Regions from separate parts of the Homo sapiens genome. Here regions 1 and 3 are each linked to region 2. Evidence: fine-mapped expression QTL. A gene starts in region 2. Each other region holds a variant in brackets. All regions are shown on one strand. Distances are from middle to middle. Region 1 has its middle 43 kb from the start of MIR12130. Region 2 holds the start of SEMA6A-AS1 (SEMA6A antisense RNA 1). Region 3 has its middle 92 kb from the start of MIR12130.

The links.
Region 1: its variant is fine-mapped to the expression of SEMA6A-AS1 in whole blood (TOPMed, PIP above 0.99). The same link has a PIP of 0.9 or more in blood mononuclear cells.
Region 3: its variant is fine-mapped to the expression of SEMA6A-AS1 in monocytes (BLUEPRINT, PIP 0.91).

The regions. Positions count from the first base shown.
Region 1 is chr5:116,294,244-116,302,427 of GRCh38, reverse strand. No RefSeq gene overlaps it. Among named protein-coding and RNA genes, the nearest start is that of MIR12130, 43 kb to the right of the region's middle. The variant A/G (reference allele first, on the strand shown) is at 4,107.
Region 2 is chr5:116,443,374-116,451,534 of GRCh38, reverse strand. It overlaps SEMA6A-AS1 (SEMA6A antisense RNA 1), which reads right to left and starts at 4,037. Exons shown (of 3, transcript NR_109879.1): 1 at 3,744-4,037; 2 at 1,718-1,907. SEMA6A (semaphorin 6A) reads left to right here. Exons shown (of 19, transcript NM_020796.5): 19 at 3,724-7,980. The coding sequence ends at 4,922.
Region 3 is chr5:116,344,066-116,352,249 of GRCh38, reverse strand. No RefSeq gene overlaps it. Among named protein-coding and RNA genes, the nearest start is that of MIR12130, 92 kb to the right of the region's middle. The variant T/C (reference allele first, on the strand shown) is at 4,640.

The DNA of each region.
Region 1 (8,184 bases), 150 kb after region 2:
TACCTTTGATGTTTTTGCCCATAGCTCTCTACGTTTATCACTGAAAAATAAGACAGATCTGCTAAGACGACTGATAAAGGACAGAGGCTGGAATTGTGATTGCATTAATGGAACCTGACTAGAGAACTTCACAAATGCCCAAATCTTATCCTGCCATTCACTCCTGATGCTGACATTTCCAGAAGAGCTACACATAGGAAGACTGATAGCAACTGGGAACCAAAATGACAATTATCTTTCAGAGCTTGGTAAGGTTGGGTAAGAGCATATGGTTCATTCTTAAGGCCTAAGAAAGACACTCCCTCCCTACCTGCCCCTCTTCCCCACACATCTCAGCTTCTCCTCAAAATCTGGACTCTCTCTATTCCATCCCATAGAGTGGAAACAAGAAATGCAAAAGGAGCACCATCCATGGGCATGGTCTTTTTATGGTTGATCTGGCCATCGATAAACATGGCCAACCAATACTTTAACTGACCAAACATGAATGGCAAGCCATTCTTCCCTAAAGGATGTGGGAGAACGAGAGAGAGGGCCAATAGGGAAGTAGGCAGAGAGGCAGAAGCATTTCTTCCTCTATAACATATTCACCCTATTTCCATAAAAATGTTCTATTTGAAATCCTATACAGAGAAGTTTATGAAATTGATTTGGCTTCCTTTAGTAAACCCTAAAGTAAAAACGCTTAGAAAAATGATGAAATAAGGTTTAAATATTTAATTATAGGAGAATTTTTAACATTTCAAAAAATACAATCCTATGGAAAGAAAATTTGATCTGATGTGGCTCTATTTTTTCAAGCAGACTCTTGTAACCCTGGATCTCCTTACACAGACTATAGAGCTAAATATAAACATTAATTAAAATAATTTTCAAAGATTATCTTGCTTACAGATTTAACTGAAAGTGTAAACTAAAGAAAAGGGATCAAAGAGTAGAAATGCATTTACAGGAATGGCATTAACTTAAGGAAAATGATCCTGGAAAATCAGAGACGGGAAGGGTGCTTCATGGAATCCAGTACAGAACCACAGCACTGTAAAATCAGTGCATTTGGGTAAGTGCTTATTGAGGGCCTGAAGAAATAACCTCACAGATGGTGGCCACCCTCTACTGGTCCATCAGTTTAGGGCACCTATCAACACCTATGAGCCTGCCAAGCAGAACTTTACAAGATCACTGACCCAACCATATGAAGGAGGTTAATAGCATATCTAGCAAAGGTGGCCACCCCCAGAGTCCTCCAAGCCTGCTGTGTGAGAAATGCCTGCACTGGATAATTTGCAAGTCCAGAAAGCCAATGCATCCAAACTCACTGACTTTCTTTTTACTACTCTAGTTACTTTGTTTGGATGACATAAGGAAAGAACATACTTTGCAGTAAGAACCAAAACTCTGACAAAGAAGGCCTTGAGTTTCAAGGATTCACAGGGCATTCTGCCATAAGGTAGAAAAGTTAGATGTTATAAATATTACTCTATCATAAGAAACTGATCCCTCACATTGGGCTCTACATCTAAAGGCACAGTCTTAGTTGCATAAAATTAAACTAAACTGTTACTGAACAGCTTTCTGTGTGGCTCTGTTTATCTTGCCTGCTTTCTGTACTATCTATGTCAACTTTATCTGATTTTTGTCCAGCTGGTATATTTGTGATAAGTTGGAACAATCTGTGCCATGTAAAGGGAGACTTAAAAAAACTTTGTCAGAATTGTCCCACATCAGTGAGGAAAGCCTGTTTGTAGGCAGTGTGTACAGGAGTGTGTGTGTGTGTGTGTGTGTCTATGTGTGTCTTTAATCAAGATACTCTTTTCAGCAGGAAATTAAAATCTTCTGGGTAATGAGCTCAGAAAATCTATACACACTGAACATATATTTCAGTATAAGAATGTTGTTGATGTCTCTCTGGAGCACTTCATTTTGACCCTATCACATAAAACAACTCTGAAATTGCTAGGAATGTAACTGTTTTCAGTCTTGCAGCATCAGTACCCAGAAGCATGTGTAGGTCAACTTCATGACTATCATAAATCTCTTCACAGCAATGCGAGAACTTGCTCTAGCCTTCTGGAGGGCAGAAATCTGGGTCTCTGGCTGGTTATAAGGCTTTTATTCTCATGTTTATCTCCTGGATGATGAATAAAAGGATCAGTGACCTCAGGAGATACTCCCTAGAAGGGATGTGGCTATTCCCTAATGGAATTACCAAATACCAGCATAGCTGGCTAAACCAGTTTGAAAACTACTTTTGTACAACTTTAAGTTTACAATTATTTTAAGAATTTAGATAGTACTGTGCAAATAAATGGAGAGAGCCCAAGGCAGAAAAAAACTACATACTCTATTAATTCATTCATTCAGTATTTCTAAAGCACCCCAATGTTCGTAGAACTACTTGCAGCAGCATGAAAGAGAGTAAGAAGCTGGACTGCAAAGTAGAACACATGGTCTGGAATACACAAGTCACCTTTTCTCTGATCAGCTGGAAATTACTCTGCTCCTCTGTCAAAGCATAAACACATTCTTGGGATGGAGAGGAATGCTGGAGCTTCCAAGGTTGATGTGTTAAAGCAGCCTTATCCAGGGGACAGCAGCTTTTTCCTTTGTCCCCTTATGTAGTCTGGTTGAAACTGCAGAATAATTTGAAATGTGGACTAAAAATAGTGCACAAAGGAAACTTAGAAATCTCAGAAGGAGAGATGAGGAAAGGCCTTGAGAAATCACTGCACTCCTTGCCTTACAGCAAGTCTATATTTATCATAGATTTAAAAAACTTTATTATTGACTTTCCTTTAAAGTTTTGGGTAGAATGTACAGTGTTTTTAATTTTTATTTGCCAATTAAAAAAATACAAACATAAGTCAGAAAAAAATAAATGCAACTATTAAATTTACTATTAACTGCTTTCCTTTACCTAGATTTTTTGAAGGAAAAATCTTTAAAAATCATTAAAAAATCAGGTTCTCATTAAAAGATGCTAAAAATGACTGAACTCTGGTTTCACTAAAAGAAGATTATTATATATTCATTATTTTTCCTGCCTTGGAGATTGAAACAGTCTCTCTAAGCCTCTAGCACCATCTTCCTTACAGATTTGTTGACTGGACTGGCTTCACCTTTCCTGTCTTTGCAGACTACTTCTTTTGAAATAAAAATCAGTAACTTTCCATTTCAAATAAAACAAAGTAGGCTATGAAAACTGCCATCATTTAGATTTGGATTGTAGGCCTCCATAACAGCTAGTACAACCTTATAGTTCAGAGAAAAGCAAAAGAGCTTCAAAAATACTTCAGGAGTGTGCATATGGCGAGATGGGAGCAATGGTTAAAAATCCTTAAAATTCTCCAAAATTAAAAATGCCATTAAGCTTTACTATAAAATACCTCAAATTAATGTGTTCCTAATTTTAGCATTAAATGAAGCTGGTCTATTGAGTAGGACTATTTGCATAATGATGGCAAAAAAAAAATCAAAGTTTTAGGGAAGCAAAATTGATCAGAAATTTAAATTATAATTCCTGAGTAGCTTCTGACTAATGCATCTGAATAAATCAGAACCATCCCAGTCCTCTTATTCAACAGTAGAAAAAGAATTATGGAAAGACTTTGGGGGAAATTTACAATATACCCTTATGGTTTCTCAAAACATTTGTCTCAAAATAACCACACTGAAGGAGGGAGGTGAATATAGGTTCCCAGTAACACTGAGAATTTAGCCTGAATTCGCAGGCTGCAAGCACAAAGGTTTTGTTCTGTTTTTTAAGGTTTCCCATTTCCTCTTTAACATTTATATGCATTTTGCCATAAAATGTAAATCTCCATTTTAAAATATGTTGTACATTACTGGCCAATTATAATAAAATTATGTTGCCACCATATTAGTTAGGCTACAGGCAAACGTGCTGTGTATAGCCTAAACTGACCCCAAATTTAATAACTCAAACAAGATATTTTATTTCTGTCAAGGGCATGGAGACAGCTGTGTTCTATAAGTATATTCAGGGACCCAGGTTCCTTCCATCTTGTTGCTCCCTACCTCTTAAGCATTAGCATTCTTGTCTGCTCAAAGCTGACTCAGCTCCAAATCTGGGTTTCAATCACAGAAAG[A/G]GGAAGACAACTGGAGATGAATGATCACTTCCATTCACAATTCATTAGCAACACTTAGTTCCACGGCTGCAGTAGCTGCAAAAGAGGATAGAAAATGTAATTTCTTCTACTTCTGGCAAAAAGTAGAAGTGATGCTATTGAAATATATACAACGTCCATCTTACGACTTTTTGTGTTCCCTACCAACTACTTTATTTCTCTAGGGATGCTCCGGTTTAGAGAGCATAGTATAAAGCAGGGTTCTGCATCCTTTCTTTCTATAAAGGGCCAGGTTTTAGGCTTTGTGGGCCATATGGTCTCTGCTGCAACTACTCAACCCTGCTGTTGTTCAAAAGCAGCTACAGACCATATGTAAACAATTGAGCATGGCTGTTGTTTTAGTTATCTATTGCAGCGTAACAAATTACTACAAAGTTAGAGGTTTAAAACAACAGAGTTATCATCTCACAATTACCATGGGTAGAGTTCAAGCATAGTTTAGTTGGGTCCTTTGTTTAAAATCTCACAAGGCTGCAATAAGAGTCAGTTGGACTGTGCTCTCATCCAGAAGCTTAACAGGGAAAAAAACAAAACAAAGCCAAACAAAAAAACGACAAGAAAACCCATTTCCAGGCTAATTCAAGGTTGTTCGCAGAATTTATTTCATAGAGGCTATAAGGCTAAGGGCCTCAATTTCTTGCTGGCTGTTCTCCCTCAGCCCCTAGAGGTCACCCTCAGTTCCTTGTCATGTAGCCCTATCCGCAGCCTCTCTTATAACATGGTATTATTTCTTCAAAGCAAGGAAGGGAGAAAGTCTCAAGAGTGAGTTTGGTAGCAAGACAACTGTGTTCCAATAAAACTTTATTTACAAAGACAAGTGGTGGGTCATGTCCATCATTTGCTGATCCTTGGTATAATGAATAAAGTGTAGAAGACATTATTTACGGTAAGAAGAAATCAAAGTTCACTGAGTAGAGAAAAAGATTTCTCAGAGCCAGAAGAGCCACGTGGAAAGGTACTCAGAAGAAAGTATTTTTTTCATTCTGGTCCCATAATACATGTATTACCTCATTTTTTAAATAAAAAATAAAAGCAGAATTGGCATTGTGTTAGAATCTGTGATTATAAAATGGAGTTGTTATTAGAATGCCAAATAAGTTTAAAGTGAAGGGGCTTCATAGCAAGCTTTCTACAATTTTGACTCTAATTCAAACTTCACCTGGAAAAATTTCAACAGAGAGTCTGCTTATTTTCTTAATGATTATAAAAATGTCAGCTAATGCTTATTATATGATTGAGATTCAAGGATTATGCTAAATGTTTAACATGAATTTCACTTAATCTTCAAAACACTCATGTTAGTTAGATTATTATTCCTATTACAAAGATAAGTAAAGTGAACTTTCACAAATTAACTTGCTCAACACACACACACAAAGTAGAAGAACAAGGATATAACCTTTGCACTGTCCTGAGAAACCAGATCGTTAAATTTTACTTAATGTGTAATAGGATCCTTTGAAGGGTTTTAGGCAGGGAGATGGTATAATTAATAGGTTATTTTTTAAAAATTAGCTCTGTACAACGACTGGACTGGAGGAGGGCTAGAATGGAAGAAAGGTGGTCCAGGGCAAAGTTGATGGCAGCTTGGACAGGGTAGTGCCCTGGAGATACACTTGCAATACATTTTGGTGGTAAAAACGACAAAACTTGTAAGAGAATGGCTCCCTGTCTACCTAATTGTAGTGCACTCCACTATGCCATCTGTTCACTACACTCTAGCCACACTGACCTTTTGGTTCCTGAAATGCGCTAAGCCTTTCCCATCCTCTGAGATTTTGCATGGGCCATTCTCTCTAGAATGCCTGTCACTCTATTCTACTATTGTGCCATCTTAACTCATCATATTGGACTCAGCTCAAATCTCACTCCTCAGAGAATCCTTCCTTGATGCCCCAGTCCAAGTTTGGTTCCATCATTAATTTTCTCTGAATAGAATCCAATTATATTTTGTCCCATATTTGTTCATTTATTCCATATTTGTTTACTTTTCACTAACACATTACATTTCAAGAGGCCAAGAACTAGTTTTGCCTATCACTGTAAACATGGTACCTAGCATACACAGTTCCTGCCACCATATTCACCATACTCAGCAGTGATTACTTGTTGAATAAATAAATGCCTGACTTCGAAGCCCTTACACTTGAATACTGAGTTATTGGCTCTCATATTTGATTTTTAAAGAGATTTCCTTTTCAATCCTTCTATAGTTATCAAAGTGACATATCTCAATATGTCCCATCACTCTTCCTAAACAAACACTGACCTCAGGTTATAAAAAATGTTGAGGGTGAAATGTATAGAAGGAAGAAGGGGCTGCTGAAGGTGGCTTGAGGCAAGTGAGTTCTCATTCATTGTTTGTGGGAGTACAAATTAATATAATCCTTTGGAGAAACAATTTAGCAATATATATCAAAGGCCTTGAAATAAATATAAATGTATTTTTGAAAATACACAAGAGGTGTGTATATTTGTATTATAAGATGTCTGGTTTTTTGTGTGTTGAGATGGGGTTTTGCTCTGTTGCCCATGCTAAAGGGCAGTGGCATGATCACAGCTCACTACAGCCTCAACTGCCTGGGCTCAAGCAGTTCTCCCACCTCAGCCTCCCAAGTAGCTGGGACCACAGGTGTGTGCCACCACACCTGGCTAATTTATTATTATTATTATTTTTTTTTTTTTTTTTTTTTTTTTTTGTAGAGACAGGACTCACTATGTTGACCATGGTGGTCTCAATCTCCCGGGCTCCAGCAATCTGCCCACCTCAGCCTCCCAAAGTGCTAGGATTACAGACATGAGCTACTGCACCCACCAAATGTCTGCAGTATTAGGTAGGTACTTCCAGGAAGTGAGATGGCAAAATGGTGCAACTTTGTTTTAATGGGCAGCTATATATATATGTATGAGAAAAGGTCTCATTCTGTCACCTAGGCTGAAGTGCAGTGGGATGATAGAATGACTCGCAGCCTCAACCTCCTGGGCTCAGGTGATCCTCCCACCTCAGCCTCCTGAGTAGCTGAGACTATAGGCATGCACCACCAAGCCTGGATAATTTTTGTATTTTTTTATAGAAATAAGGCTTTGCCATGTCGCGTGGGCTGTTCTCAAACTCCTGGGTTCAGGTGATCCTCCTGCCTCAGCCTCCCAAAGTGTTGGGATTACAGGCATAAGCCACCACACCTGGCCTTGTTTTTTTATAATGAAAATCCGATTAAAGATGAAAATAGAAAATAAATCTTCATACTTTTGACATAGCAACTCTACTTCTAGGAATCTATACTAATAATATCACGAGAGATGTGGTCTAGGGTTTATGTATAATTATATTTATCAGTGAGTTCCCTACGTTCAAAAATTTGAATAATCTAAATGTGCCAAAATTTGGACAATTTAATTATTTTGAGAAATATAAAGTATATAAAGTATAGATCATTCAAATGATGAACTATTTAATATACATTAAAATTATGTTTGGGCAATAAAGATATGAAAAATGTTCATGCTGTAAGGGTACATAAAGCAAAGTATGAAACAGAATTTATGGCATTACTTCAATTTGTTAGGAAAGAAGAAAAAATGAACAAGAAAGATAAATGGATACAAAAAAACTGCAATAAATCTATCAAACTGTCATTAATGGCCATTTTTGGATGATAGGATTCTGTAAGTTTAGATTAGTTATTTATGATTTTTTGGTATTTCCCAAATAAAAATAATCATGATAATTTATAATTAGGGAAGAATTACAAATATAATTTGTAATAGATACAAAAATTAGTTCCTCTTTCTAACAAGCAATTCTGTCTATTCAATCCTCATGTCACACACTCGTGAAAGACATACAGTAACTTTATTTACCAAGATTGCAGTTCCAAGCCCCATTAATCTCATTTATCTTATTTTTATAAAAAAGTAACATGCATTTAATACTCTTTGGAAATGCCACATGTTCTTTGACTTGTGCATCATAACAACAGTAATGTCTTAAGAAAGAAAGTTATCTTCAACTAAATATTTCAGAAATAATTATCTTCTT
Region 2 (8,161 bases):
ATAATTGCCAACATTTTCCACTTCTGTTGTTTTAATTATTTCAAAATTCAGTAACTATAGGCATCCTGAAACAGTATGCATTCCCTTATATTGCTTCGAAATCTCATATCACCTTTTTGACTACATTTAGAAGGCACGAAGTTTGGACCTGGAAGCACAGGTCTACTCCTCTCCCATGGGAGACCAATAGCAAATGGAATCCAATGGAGCAGCTGCGACTATCACTTGGAAGCCCTCTGTGAGCCACTAACCCACCACTTCTCCTTTGTGGCTTCTTTTGAGCTTTAGATTTGTCCAGCAAACTACAGCATTTAAGCTCTTTCCTATTTTTTATTTCCTTTGATTCTTGTAACAATCCAGTAAGGCAGTAAGATTAGGTGTGTTCACCTCATGCTACAGATAAAAAAACTGAGGCCCAGAGATGTTAAGTCACTTGCCAAAAGGTCACCCAGCCAGTAAGTGGGAGCCTGCAATTCCAAGCCCACTGAGATCTTCTCTAGCTGCTTTTATCACCACTACTGACAAGTCTGCTGTTTCCAAGCCTTCACAATGGCTATTCCACAAAGTTGACTTGATCATTTCTGTGAATGCTTCTTTGGCCTTTTTCATGATATAAGCAGAAAGCTTTAAGTTTGAAAGGCATTTCCAAAAATAACGTTTACCTTATCTTCTTCAACTGCACTTTCAACTTACTCTCTGATCTGTTTCCATCTTTGGACGTTTCTGAATTTACACAAGCAGATGAGGAAAGCCCTCTGCCTCCCCATGGATAGATGAAGACATGCAAAAATGTTTTTAAGGCCACTCTTTATATAACAAAATGAGACGGGGGAAAAAATCTGTCTGAGATACCATTTTCCTGAAAGGTCAGATCCTACTTAACTTGTTAACAACCAAAAACCTGAACTCAAATATCATCCACTAAAAAAGAGTTCTTCCCAGTGAAAGAATAAGTAGCTTTCATGAGTCTAAAATAGCCAAGGACCTTCAGACATGAAAGAAGAATGATATTTGGGAGCTAAAAGTAAGGCTAAGAAGCAATGGATACATGTGAAAAATTTGCAGTTTTCCCAGTGAAACCAATGAATTGCTCTAGCTTTACTCTTTCCACGTTCCTTTTAAACTGAGAGGGCAGTTTAAATTGTAGAATGCCAAAGTCAATTGTAAATAGCTTCCTATTATAATACACATTTATTGGGAATATCCAGTCCCCCTAAATTTGGTAGCCTGGAAGGGTTTCATGAAATACTCATTGCCATGAAAAAAACACCTAATACACCCCCACCCCATTACTGGGGCCGTCTAGCCTGTGTTCAACTCCCACTGAAATCACCAAGTCAATGAGAGAAATTAAAACCATTTTATCCACAGGTGTACATTTTTGTGCAATTATATGTAGGGGGTTAAAAACGGTGTTCGGTAGAACCCCATACATAATCAAAATTGAAGAAAAATCAGTAGCTATTTTAGCATAATAAGGAAATGCAAATTTAAGAAAGAAAATTTTCATTAGCACATTTCCTTGGTGAATAGGTACTAAAATATATTTGAATGCAGGACACCCCACTGTTTGGGGAGCTTCACACATAAAAGGTGTGAGTTACAGCCAAATTTCCGGCTGTTTTTTGCTTCTCAGTTTCTACCCCTTAAAAGCTGATGGAGATAAATCTGGAAATATTTGAAAAGTATCACATTTGAAAATTATTTGATATCTTACCGTCTTGTACACTCTTTCCTTATGGTGAATTGCCTTGACTGCCTTTTATTACCAAGGGTATTTGTTGGATCACAGAATCTTTATTTCTTAAGAGATATTTGCTGCTTCTACTTAAGTCACAATCCTTTGTCACAGGACAATCATTTCCACAGCAACCAACTGTGATGTCACAATTGAAGGGAGGAGGACCCTTAGGAAGGAAAGAAAAAGAGAATGTACTTTTCAGGCTAAGGTTTCTGGGTTTTAAAACCATCACTTCAGAAATCAAAATATTTTAGCAGAAAAACCCCCATGAGAAAGCTTCAAGGTCTCGGCTGTGACAAAGACAACATTTCAGTAGAAGTTTAAGGTTGCGTGTTGTGGGCTTGGGAAGGGGTAGAGATCTTTATTTCCTTTCATTCTAATTCTGTGCCACTGATACCTGCCAGTAAAATACATGAAACATATTCCAGAAAGAGTTGATTTAGTAGATGAAAAATGCGTCTCCCGAGACCAGAGAAGGTACCTTTTCTGTCTTGCTATCATTTCCATAATAGGAACAATGTTTACATTTCCTCAGCCCATGCAGTGCCTCTAATGTATTCATGTTCTTTCACTCTCCAGAGGCAGGAATTGAGGTATTAGAGATTTTATTTTTTAGCGACTGCATCAAGCACTTAAGATCTGACAACTGTGATGTGTATTCTCACTTGGTATTAAAAAATAAAAGCTTCTGTGTTTGCATTTGATTAGAGTCACTCAGCTGGGTGGCTGATTAAGCAGGAATAGCGAAAGCACCTTCCTTCAGAAACACTGAATCCTGGTTAATGTAGTGTAAGATTACGGATGGGTGTAGTCACATAATTTTTATTAAATTGAAGAGATTAGCTCTGCTGAAAAATCCCACTGTGACAGCAAACTCTAGGTGCAATAATGGTACCTAACACTTCTCAAACCCACTACAGGGCCCCAAATGGTCTTATTTCTGAATCTTCTTTCAGTTCCAGTGAGAAAGCTTCATTCAAATATTCAGGATAGTTACCTGAAATTGAGTTTGCACTGTTTTTTTTTTTTTTTTTTTTTGAGAGGTGATGCAAAATCAGCACAAACATTTGTAGTCTGTGAACTTTAGCTATATTCTCTCAGTGTAAATAAAAATGACACACACTCTCTTTCCTCTAGTTGCTTAAAAGGCAAACACTTTTCCCCAGACGGAGGCTCCGGTGGCCACAAGGGGGCCGTCGGAAAAGATCCCAACTGGAAGCCCAGAGTGTGTGATTTGTTTGTCTAACATGCATAAAATTGTTGCCTCTTCCTCCAGACTCAGGATAACTTGGTTATCCCAGTTCTAGGAAGGGAAGGTTAAAAAGCCATAAAGAAGGAAAGAAAGATAACTTTTGAAAGCCAAAACCTCCCATATTCCCTGGAGTGAAGCAGAGTAGAAAGTGCAGGTACTGGAAAGAGTGAACAGCACTTTTCTTTCTTTCTTTTTTTGAAACGGAGTCTCGCTCTGTCACCCAGGCTGGAGTACAGTGGCCTGATCTCCCTTCACTGCAACCTCCACCTCCCAGGTTCAAACAATTCTCTACCTCAGCCTCCGGAGTACCTAGGATCACAAGCCCCCGCCACCGCGCCTGGCTAATTTTTTTTTTTTTTTTTTTTTTTTTTAGTAGAGACGGGGGTTTCACCATCTTGGCCAGGCTGGTCTTCAACTCCTGACCTCGTGATCCACCCGCCTCGGCCTCCCAAAGTGCTGGGATTACAGGCGTGAGTCACCGTGCCCGGCCTGAACAGCACTTTTTTAGACAACAAAGAAGGCTACAAATGGAGTCCATTTACATACTGCACACGAGGGGCTTGGGGAGGATTAATTGGTTAATGTTTGGCAAGCTGAGCTTGGAAGACAAGTTGTGCAGAGGTGCTGTTGTCACTTACTACTGTTATTAATTAACAAGGTGAATGCCAAGCAAAAACAAGCCTCGGGGTGTGCTTTCATTTCTTAACGCCATATGCGATGTCTATTGCAGGAGTGATTCGGGAAAGTTACCTCAAAGGCCACGACCAGCTGGTTCCCGTCACCCTCTTGGCCATTGCAGTCATCCTGGCTTTCGTCATGGGGGCCGTCTTCTCGGGCATCACCGTCTACTGCGTCTGTGATCATCGGCGCAAAGACGTGGCTGTGGTGCAGCGCAAGGAGAAGGAGCTCACCCACTCGCGCCGGGGCTCCATGAGCAGCGTCACCAAGCTCAGCGGCCTCTTTGGGGACACTCAATCCAAAGACCCAAAGCCGGAGGCCATCCTCACGCCACTCATGCACAACGGCAAGCTCGCCACTCCCGGCAACACGGCCAAGATGCTCATTAAAGCAGACCAGCACCACCTGGACCTGACGGCCCTCCCCACCCCAGAGTCAACCCCAACGCTGCAGCAGAAGCGGAAGCCCAGCCGCGGCAGCCGCGAGTGGGAGAGGAACCAGAACCTCATCAATGCCTGCACAAAGGACATGCCCCCCATGGGCTCCCCTGTGATTCCCACGGACCTGCCCCTGCGGGCCTCCCCCAGCCACATCCCCAGCGTGGTGGTCCTGCCCATCACGCAGCAGGGCTACCAGCATGAGTACGTGGACCAGCCCAAAATGAGCGAGGTGGCCCAGATGGCGCTGGAGGACCAGGCCGCCACACTGGAGTATAAGACCATCAAGGAACATCTCAGCAGCAAGAGTCCCAACCATGGGGTGAACCTTGTGGAGAACCTGGACAGCCTGCCCCCCAAAGTTCCACAGCGGGAGGCCTCCCTGGGTCCCCCGGGAGCCTCCCTGTCTCAGACCGGTCTAAGCAAGCGGCTGGAAATGCACCACTCCTCTTCCTACGGGGTTGACTATAAGAGGAGCTACCCCACGAACTCGCTCACGAGAAGCCACCAGGCCACCACTCTCAAAAGAAACAACACTAACTCCTCCAATTCCTCTCACCTCTCCAGAAACCAGAGCTTTGGCAGGGGAGACAACCCGCCGCCCGCCCCGCAGAGGGTGGACTCCATCCAGGTGCACAGCTCCCAGCCATCTGGCCAGGCCGTGACTGTCTCGAGGCAGCCCAGCCTCAACGCCTACAACTCACTGACAAGGTCGGGGCTGAAGCGTACGCCCTCGCTAAAGCCGGACGTACCCCCCAAACCATCCTTTGCTCCCCTTTCCACATCCATGAAGCCCAATGATGCGTGTACATAATCCCAGGGGGAGGGGGTCAGGTGTCGAACCAGCAGGCAAGGCGAGGTGCCCGCTCAGCTCAGCAAGGTTCTCAACTGCCTCGAGTACCCACCAGACCAAGAAGGCCTGCGGCAGAGCCGAGGACGCTGGGTCCTCCTCTCTGGGACACAGGGGTACTCACGAAAACTGGGCCGCGTGGTTTGGTGAAGGTTTGCAACGGCGGGGACTCACCTTCATTCTCTTCCTTCACTTTCCCCCACACCCTACAACAGGTCGGACCCACAAAAGACTTCAGTTATCATCACAAACATGAGCCAAAAGCACATACCTACCCCATCCCCCACCCCCACACACACACACACACACACATGCACACAACACATACACACACACGCACAGAGGTGAACAGAAACTGAAACATTTTGTCCACAACTTCACGGGACGTGGCCAGACTGGGTTTGCGTTCCAACCTGCAAAACACAAATACATTTTTTAAAATCAAGAAAATTTAAAAAGACAAAAAAAAAAGAATTCATTGATAATTCTAACTCAGACTTTAACAATGGCAGAAGTTTACTATGCGCAAATACTGTGAAATGCCCGCCAGTGTTACAGCTTTCTGTTGCAGCAGATAAATGCCATGTTGGGCAACTATGTCATAGATTTCTGCTCCTCCTCTCTTTTAATGAAATAACGTGACCGTTAACGCAAGTAACTCTTTATTTATTGTTCACCCTTTTTTTCCTTAAGGAAAGGACTCTTCCAAATATCATCCTATGAACAGCTCTTCAGAAAGCCCATTGAAAGTTAAACTATTTAACGTGAAATCCATTAACTGGAATAATTGAGTTTCTTTATTTTTACAATAAATTCACTGAGTAAATAAGTTGGAGCTGGAATTCTGAGCTTTGTGTTTGGACTGTCTGGTCTGTAGCTAAAGGAAAAAGTTAGGAGGGGAATATTTATTTAAATCTATCAGTTCATTGCCTGGTCAGGTCTCTGGCCTATAAACATGCAAAAAAACTAATTCATGTTAAAGTCCTTCCAGATCCTAATTTCTAAAGCAATCAGGAGAGAAAGCTTTTAGAATGGCACATCATATCTCATTGATGCCAACATGGTTTTGTCCATGGTTCTGACTTTCTGTGAAGGCACCAGCTTGCAATATGCCATCCCATTTCACCTTGCATGTGAGACAGCAAACAAAATCCACAAATGGTGTGAACTAATATGCTGGCTGCTACCTTGCATAAATTAATGATTTGATCACACGGGTTCTTCGTGGGGTTACATCTGTGAATAGCCTGTTTTCCACATGTAAATTTGTGCCTTACACCTTGAGTTGTGTACACTTGTAAACTCTTTATGATCAACTGTTCCCCCTTTTGAAATAAGTGCAGATATTTATTTAACCCTCCCTTCCCCACCCTCTGCCCCACTTCCAGCCCTCTGAAAGATTGGAGTCAAGCAGATGGAAGAATGCAGTGGTGATAGTTGTCATGCGACAGCCTGAGAACGCTGGGCAGCACCACACCCTCCAATTCACACTGCCTTCTAGTTGTGCCAACTGGAACCACCCTTTGGCTGTGCTGCGAAGCATGGACCCCAGTGTTGTTGTGGGTGTGTCAAATCCCCTTTCATCCTCAAGAGCTCCCTGCTTCCCTTAGATTATTTCAATACGGTGATATCCTTATTTGCTAGCAGAAAAGGGACTAACGTCCCATTCCTCTTTTCTGCTGCGTCCACTGGCTAGAGAGCAGGCGGTGCGCGGTTGGGCAGACACCTGGGAGGAGTCTCCAAGCCATGTGCACAGCACACACGTGCAGTGCACACAAAGAAATGACATGGAAATAGATGCAGGCAGGCTGGTCCCTGCTGTGATTAACGAGTAACTCCAAGTACAAGGCCGACCACAATGGATGCTGCAAAAACGTTGACTGGGGCAAAGGATTTTTTATTTTATTTTTTATTTTGTTAATTATGTTTTTAGGGGATGGGAGGTGGTGTGTGTTTTTCTCCTCTTGGTTTTCATTTGCTCAAGCACACAAAAGGGACTTTTGTTTACTCTATCATGAACAAAGGAACTGTCCACATACTGTAAACCATGAGCAGTGTTGTTGTTGTTTTTTTAAACAGTATATTTGGTGGTCTCTTTGTCTGCTTTTATTTCCAGTTCGATCTTCTGGGTTTAGTTTTGTCTTTAAAAAGAATTCAAAAAAAGACTGACAATGACAGTTTTGAGTTGGATAGTGAAAAAGTGGAGCCTCCATAATCAGTGTGGTTGCCTTCAGACCTGAGTACTTAGCTGAGGGTGGGTGAGAGCCCTTTGTTCCAAAAGTCCATTAGTTTTGCTGTTGTTTAGGAGTAGGTGGTTGTTGTTGTTTTTACTTTTTTTTTTTTTGGCTTTTGTAATGGAATCCATGTTCACATCCTGTGAACTCTGTCTCCTGAAACCCTGAAGTATTTCCTAGAACCTGAAATATTGTTTTCTTCCTTGAATTTTCTCTAGAAATGCAGAAATTAGGAAGGTGATGGGTCTGTATCCCCCTGCCCCCTTCTTTCCCATGCTTGACTCCCGAGAGTACTGGCAGTGCAGCACCCATCATTGACGTAAGCGGCTGTCTTGTCCAGTGTTTGTAGGCATCACTGCCTCAGCTGTTAAGGAGACCTGTGTCAAAACTTACATCCACATTCCTACACCCCCACAACCCATCACTTCTGGTGTTAACCCTAAAATACCCACATGTATTGAGCTGGTCTTCTGCATTTAAGTATTTCTCCCCAGTTTTTTTCCCCACTGTGTGTGGGGGGAGGGTCCATAAACCCGAGTGTGCCTTTGCTTTCCACCCTTGCTAGACACTGGTAGATGCAACAAACTCAGATTTATATTTGTTGTAAAGTTGTAAAAATATTGTGATGTCACCAATTTTCCTTCCATCTCCACATCCCCTAACATCTGATTCACGACTTAATGTATGTTGTAAGAAAAGAAAAAAGAAAAGAAAAAAAGGGAAAAAAGAAAAGCAAGGAAAAGGCTCTTTATTACTTAAAAGTAATAAAACCTGACTGTTCTATATTATCTTTTGTGTCCTGAATGCTTTTATTTATCTCTTAATTTTTCCTTTTTAAGCTGCTCTCCTCCCCACCCTTTGTGGGTATGATGCTACTCTTTCCTCCATTTGTATCTGGCTTCCAAAGCATACATAACGGTATAGTTTGATGTATTTGTTTGCAGTGTCCACACCCAGCCACCCCCACCC
Region 3 (8,184 bases), 99 kb after region 2:
GTTGCTATTGTGGTAAGGTCAAGCATTGCAAGTATCCTTTTGAAATGCCATAGAATGCTAATCATCCTTGCTTGAGCAGTTTGTCTCTCCAATAAATTGGGTATTGCCGTAAAAAGTGATCTCTCACACAAGCCACTGTTGCAGCAATGCCAGCAGACATGAAGACCTTGCACTTTTTGTAAAATACATTTTTATCTCATATTGAAAATGCAGCTTTTAGTGGCACCAGGACTGCTCTAAGAAAGGCACGCCCTGTAGTCCCAGCTACTTGGGAGACTGAGGTGGAAGCATTGCTTGAATTCAGGAGGTTGAGGCTGCAGTGAGCCATGATCACGCCACTGCACTCCAGCCTGGGTCCCTAAAAAAAGAGAAAGAAAACACAAAGACATGCCTATAGGCTGTAATATGATTTGAGAGAAAGCAAAGTCATCGTATGAAAACTTTACACAAACGGTGAAGAATCTAAAGCTGGAGAACTCTATGTCAGCAAAGGACGGTTTAATAATTTTAGAAAAAGGTTTGGATTTAAAAATGTCAAGATAACAGGAGAAGCAGCTTTTGCTGATCAAGAAGGAGCAGATGAGTTCCCACACATCATTAAGAAAATCACTGAGGAGAAAAGATACTGCCCGAAAAGGTTTTTAATAGATGATTTTAGTAGATGAAAGTGCCCTATCCTGGAAAAAAATGCCACAAAGAAAATTTATTATTATAGTAAGGAAGAGAAGTGAGCACCAGGATTTAAGGCAGGAAGGGATAGGCTAACTCTACTATCATGTGAAAACGTAGCCAGGTTTATGATCAGGATTGTCCTCACCTATAAATCTGCCAATTCCTTAGCCTTGATGGAAAAGATAAACACAGGCTTCCAGTTTTAAGGCTGTACAATAAGAAGGCCTGGACAACAAGAACTATTTTTTTCTGAACTGGTCCCATTGGTGCTTTGTCTCTGAAGTCACGCAGTACCTTGCCCAGTAAGAGACTGCCTTTTATTACACATGCCCCTGCCCACCCAGAACACCATGAGGTCAACACTTAAGGCATCAAAGTGGTCTACCTACCCCCAAACACGACATCTCTAATGCAGTCTCAAGATCAGAAGGTCATAAGGACCTTTAAGGCTCATTAAACACAGTACTCTATGAAAAAGATTATCAACACTATGAAAGAGAACCCTGATAGAAACAACATCATGAAAATTTAAAGGAATTATCTTCAATGGCATAATTCAATTGAAGATGCCATCATTTTAGAAAAAGCCATGAATACCATTGAGCAGAAATAAAAAACTCCTGCTGGAGAAAACTGTCTAGATATTGTACATGACTTCACATAATTTACAACAGAGCCAGTCAAGGAAATTATAAAAGAGACTATGCATATGGCAACAAAAAAATGTGGGAGGTGAAGGATTTCAAGATAAGAATCTTGGAGAAATTTAAGAGCCACTAGATACCACACCAGACGAATTAACAGAAGACAACTTGATGGACAGGAGTGTTTCCAAATCAATGACAAATCATGAGGAAGAAGACATAGAAGATGCAATGCCCGATAACAAATTGATGTTAGATAATCATGCAGAATGGTTCTGATTATTCAGGACTGCTTTTGACATTAATGACATGGACTCTTTTATGATATGAAACTAAAGCAAACAGTGGTAGAAGGATTGGTACTATATAGAAACATTTTTTAGAGGAAAAAAAGTCAGATGTGTTTTCGTAAAGTTATGCCAAGTGTGCCCGCCTCCCCTGCCTCCCCTTCCACCTTCCACATCTGCCACTCCTGAGACTGCAAGACCAATCCCTCCTCCTCTTCCTCCTCCTTAGCCTACTTGATGTGAAGATGAAGAGTATGAAGACTTTTATGACAATCCCTTCCACTCAATGAACAGTAAATACATTTTCTCTTTCTTATGATTTTCCTAATAACATTTTCTTTTCTCTAGCATACTTTATTCTAAGAATACAGTATATAATACCAATAGCTTACAAAGTATGCATTAATCGAATGTTTATGTTATTGTTAAGGCTTCTAGTCAACAGTAGGCTACTGGAAGTTAAGTTTTGGGAGAGTCTACACTTATACAAGGATTTTTGACTGCACTGGGGTCAGCTCCCCAACCCCCATGTTGTTCAACTGTATTCATATCTAACACATATTGAGTACTTACTATGTACATGAATTTTCAGTGTATTAGCTCATCTAATCTTTGTAATAACTCTGTGAAGTAGATTTTATAGATTATGAAGCTACTTTATAGATTTTATAAAGTGTTTTATAGACTAGGAAATTTAAGCAAAGATAAATAATGTGATCAAAATCATACAAGTAGTAAGAGGTAGGACTAGATTTAAACTCAGACTGACTCCAAAATCTATGCTTATAAGAACTACGTCAGACAGCATACCACTATCTGGATATATTTAATTTATTAAACTAAGCCCTCTACTGATGGATAATTAAATTAGTCAGTTTTATTATATATAAAATAACTTTTAAAAATTCTTGATATACATCTTTATGTACTTGCCTATTTATTTCCTCTGAGAAAATTCTTACAAAGAGAACTGCCATTATATGCATTTAAAATTATAGATTGTGGTACAATTGCTAATCTGTCCTCCAAAAAAAGTTTACCAATTCACAACCCCTCCATTAGTTTATAGAAGTGCCTATCTATTGACATCATTTTTAGCACCGAGTTTTGTCAATATTTTCCTTTTCTGATACTTGAGCATTGAAAAATAGGATTCTCATTTTTTTGCATTTGTTTTCAAATGGTGCTTATTGAGCTGTTAGTGTCTAATGAGCTGTCTGATTCCCAATTGCTGCATTTCCTCTGTTAAGCCTTGGCTTTGACCCTGCTTTTTCCTCTTCATCAGTTTGTCCCAAGGAGACAAGCTTTTTGGTTACGCTTCCTTTCAGAACAGAAAGCATTCTTCAGGATACAGGATTACTCAGAATCTCTCCTAAACCACATGTTCTGATTAGGATGTGCTTACCTGAGTGACTAAGATACTAATTTCAGAGCTGCTATTCTTTCCCCTTTTTATGCTCCAGAATCTGCTTACTTCTTCTCTCCTTTCTAATCAATGAATTTTCTAATAAAGACACTGCATGACTGGCAGTAACCTACCATTTTTTCCAGGCCTACATAATCTTCTACTTAGAGTGTGTGAGCTTCTAAGCTTGTTACACTATTAAAAGTGACTTGCATGGTCCATTTAAAAGCTGTGGTATGGTCAAAGAACTTTAGTCTAGAAACCACAACACAATTTTTAAGACAATACTGTCTTCCTTTCTTTTTTCTTTCCTACCTTTTCCTGCCTTCCTTATTTCCTTCCCTTCTTCCATTCTCTCCTTCCTTCATTTTGAGACAGCCAGGTGGGAGGGGGTCCCTGGAGAAACCCCAACCAGGCTGCCCACTGAGGTGGAGCCTCGGGAAGTTCACGACATTTGCAGCAGGAAGGAGCCTGTGAGGAACCTGGGATAAGGGCGGGAAGCACCCTAGCAGGGACTCTGGCCTAGTCCCTGTTTTCCCCTTTTCTTCCTTTTCACCCAATAAAACCCTACTTCGCACACCCTTCAAACCATCTGTGAGCCTAAATGTTCATGGTCGTGGGATGCAACAGGACCCCCTCTTTAGGTGAACTAAGGAAAAGCCCTGCAACAGTTTTGGCACCCAATGTGGGGCTCGAGAAGTGGTGAGTAAAATGGGGACTCAAAACCTCTCACTGTTGCTTCTAAGCCTTTTCATACTCAGACTTCTGAGGTGGGGGAAACCATGTCCCCACCCACCCTGTCACTCCCAGGATTTTTCATGGCCTTTTCCTTCCTCTTTCAGGAGGGACCAGTAAGTAGCAGCTCCCCACCACTCCCCACTCCCTGCTGGGGCTGGGATGCATGGCCCAAGGGTTCTGCACAGCCTGCAGGCTGGTTCCCAGCCAGGCTGAGGCAGCCTTCCCCTTCACCAGCCAAGGTGTTTCAACTCTGTTGGACAGTAATTTAGCTTCATCTTTTCTCCCTGGTGGAGGAACCAGTTGCATAAGAATAAGAGGTTCTTCCCCAGGAATTAAAAAAATTTTTTTTTCTTTCCTCTTCTCCACCCTGTCAGCAGTTAACTTTTAAAGTTTTTTTTCCCCCGTTTACTAGACCAGGTCCCCCAACTATCACTGTTCATATTTTTCATAAAGCTTTAATTATGAAAAAGGATTTGTGGAGCTAGTCTTGGACTGTGGCCACTCTGGTGTGCTTTGCATGTCTGTATCGCTTGTCCTGCAAGACTCCATCTTGCTTTACATCCTTGGGGCATGGCCAGTAACCCCTTGGCAAAGCTTTGTTTAGCAATACTGCCTTAGAGGATGAGTCCCCTGTGGTTCATATCTGCATGTTTTCCTAGCTCTGTCTCCTAGGGGACCTCACCCAGTGACTGGGTTTTCTTCTGCCTTTCTGTGTATGTACTGTGTGTGATGTCTATAAAAACAGCTCTAATTAATTTGGCCTAAAGAAAGACAAGTGCTTGGATCTAACATTTTTTAAAGGGAAGTTAAGAGCTGTGGAATCTTTCAGTTCATGTGACTTTAATCTTTGAGAAATAAAAGCAGCCTTAAAGACGATTGGTAAAATGTAGTTG[T/C]CATTAAAATGTAAATAGATAAACTAAACTATGTAGGTCAGATGCAAGGTTTGCTGAATATTTTAAGGTTACAAACTGCTTTTTGGGTTTTGAGAACTGTCTGTCTTGTCTGCTTTACAATTGTTTAGGCCTGGGGACATATGGAACTAAACATGCCCTTAACTAAGAAGGCAAACCTTGGATGCACTTAGCACACAATTAAAGCAACTTACCGAATTTTATCTTAAAGTTAAAAATTGATAGGAGTTATCACTATAACATGTAATTGAGACTACTGAAAATAGATTTATGTGCAAGGTGTGCAAGAACAGTAAAACGTGTTTTTTAGTAAAAGGTTTTAAGAAGGCATGGAAATGTAAACTTTTGCCTAGGGTTAAAGGATTGTTTTGAGTTAAATTAGGAAAAAGCTGAAAGTTCAAAAAGTGGTGGAGGAATTGTGGAAATTAATCTTGCAGAAGAGGATCTCTATGTGAACATATTGACTAAATTCAAAAGAGTTATAAAAAGTTTTTGCTTCTTTAAAATTTCCGAGTCATCATCATTTTAGCAAAATAAATAACTTATGGTAATCTGGAATACTATTTCACAACATCAAGTGCTTTAAACATATTTTACAGCCTTCCCCAAATCAAACTTCAGTTTGAAAATTACCTTCCCTGACATCTGGCTTTTCAGATAGTCCAGAGAACCCCTGGAATGTCCAGAAAAGAGAGGTAAACAGGATTATTTGACATATTTAGGTATATGAAATTTCCAAAATGATGTTCAATCTTCTTTAGGTTATATATTGGTGAATAATGCAAACATATGTTCCAAAATTGTATGGGATTTCTAGAATTTTAATGTCTGAGTATATGCTAACAATCATAATTAGGGTTGTTATGTTATTGTAAGCTACAGAGATAACCAAACGTATTTGTCAATCGTGTTTTTAACTATGACTACCCTGGACATTTTGCTATTCAGACAATTGTTGTTTTGTTTTAATCCTTTTCAAAAGATGGCTTATAGTAAGCTATAGAACTTTAACAGGTGCTCCCAAATACAGGCTTCTGAAAACTTTGGAGATTGTGATATTGGAATAAAGGAAAATGTACAGGTCTCATGAAGAGCTGAAATGCTCATGAATATCAAGCAAAACAAGAGTTCACAAATGAACTGAACTCAGAAAGCTGAAGCAACATTTTTGACTTTTGCTTGGAATACTGCTGATCCATGTTTTGTTTTTCAGAGTCAAGGAAACTTATTTTGAACTATTTATGGCCTTTAATAATTAAGTAAGGTGTACACTCGTGTGATCAAAATTTGGAGCATGTTTGTTTCTCTCTGCCTGGCTCCCCTAGAATTTGGAAACTATCTGTGAGTTTTCTTATGGCAATATAAATAGTTGCATCAGTGCAGTAAGAATCCATTTTTCTCTTGCAACAGAACACAACTGGAGAAAACGGTTGTTTTACCAAGGCTTTGACTGGAAGGATATGCTTCCCTTTAAGGAGTCAATTTTGACCTGCAGAGCCAATAAAAGCCCACTGGAGGAACTGTCCTCCTACCCTCATCTACACAGTCCATGTACAGGGTTCCTGACCTGTGGTTAGTAAAGAATGTCACTTTCTAGCAGGTCAGGAGCTCCAAGTTTATCTTGCAACCTTAAGAGGAGAGGATCACCCAGCTCACAGGTATTTGTGGATACAAACCCATGGTTGGGCTCAGCTTTAAAATATTTTATCTGAGATTCCTCATGGAATAGAATTCCATCAAAGCCAATCCAAAAGGCCTACATAGAAATAATTATTCTTGCTGCACTTTATGCAAATAATCAGGCCAATTATAAAACTTAAGTCTATTTTGCAAACCACTCAGTCCTACAATGATTTGTTTTTTAACAAACATGAGGACTACAGAGAGAAAAATCATGTTTCAAAACTTATCATACATTTGTCATTAAATTCTAAACTCATTATTAGTTTTTAAGTTTTTGCCTACATTTTAGACTAACCCTGCTTGCTCCTGTGAACTGCAGCCATCGCTGGCTGCAGTTCGGAAAGAACAAAAGGGATGGGTAGTGTAGAAATCCAGATCAATGTTCTAGTTCTGAGCAATTATCCTGCAAATACTGCCAGGCAACTGGAATAAATAGAATGCCCGTCACTCAGAGGCTTCCTTTTGGGAAAGTAAAACCAAAGGAGCTAACCAAAGCTAAGTACCATGCACCCAAATCCTAGCAAGCTTAACTATAGCTACCAGTTATGAAAGTTATGTCACAAGACATCCTTTCCTCTCCCTTGGAGGAGGACTCAGTTCCACAGTTTCACCTTAGCATTTGGCTTATGATAAGGAGTCCGTGCAACCCCCCTCCCTCCTACCCCTGAGATACATTTTTCTCCCAGATGCAACTCCAAGCTTCGAGTCAAGGCCCTAGGAAACAAAATTGGATCTGAGGGATCCAGAGGCAAATAACAACAGAGGTTAAAAGGCACAGGGCAAGTGAGCATGGCTGATTCCTGCCAAATAAGCCAACACTAAGCTTCCTGTTTCATGGATAAAGACCACGTTAATATTCATGGCATAAATGAGGTCTAGGGAATTCGAAGGCCACTGACAGTAGGAAGGAAAGAGACACAGGTGAGAATGGATAATTCCTATTCTCTAGGGCCCCGTTTCATGGGTGCAAGTTGCTTTGACACCCACGGTGGCACGTGCCAAGGTCACCAGAACTTGGGGATGCAAGGATGGAAGAGGGAAAATAGACACTCTTCTCTCTCTCTCCCTCACTTACCACTGTGTATCTGCTGGGAAGAGAAGGGAACCAGGGACGCCTGCTTCCCTCTTTCTAAATGGGTAGCCATTCATCTTCAGTTTGTACCCCTTTCGAATGCATCCTGAACCCTTGGGACGCCTTTTAAAAATGCCTTCTTTTTCCTTTCTTCTACTTGGTTTTCTCTTCACTAATAGGTAATTGTGTCTCCATACTATGCGACACTCCCCTCAGATGCATCCTCCAAACTGGAAAGAGTTAATTTCCCAAACCTTAAACTGGTTGGGTTAGGATAGGGCCCAGTGGAAGGGAACCCAGAAGCCCAACATGCTGGCCAAAGGGTAAGGTTTTTTTGCCAGTCGGGATTTTGGCTTCCCTCTCCTTGTGCAAACTGGTAAAAAGCCTTGGAATTTTTGAGCTGTCCTTCCCCGCACCTTGTTTCATTTTGATACATGTTTTCTAATAACCTGGTTTGTCTGTTCTTGCCTTCAGGCCATCAAACTCCAAACTGTCATGCAACCAGAGCCTCTGACAATGGGCCCTTCTGCTGGGGACCCTTAAATAGGCCTCTGAGGGAGCTCTGTCATTTCCCCAAAACAGCAGTGCCCCCTTTCAGCAGGAAGCAGTTAAGATGGGTCTTTGTCCTTATCCTGAATCTAACAGCAGCTAGATGTATTTCTTTAGAGGAGAGAATGACACAGCCAGGTGGGAGGGCGTCCCTGGAGAAAGTCCAACCAGCCTGCCCAGTGAGGGTGGAGCTTAGGGAAGTTCACGACGTTTGCAGCAGGAA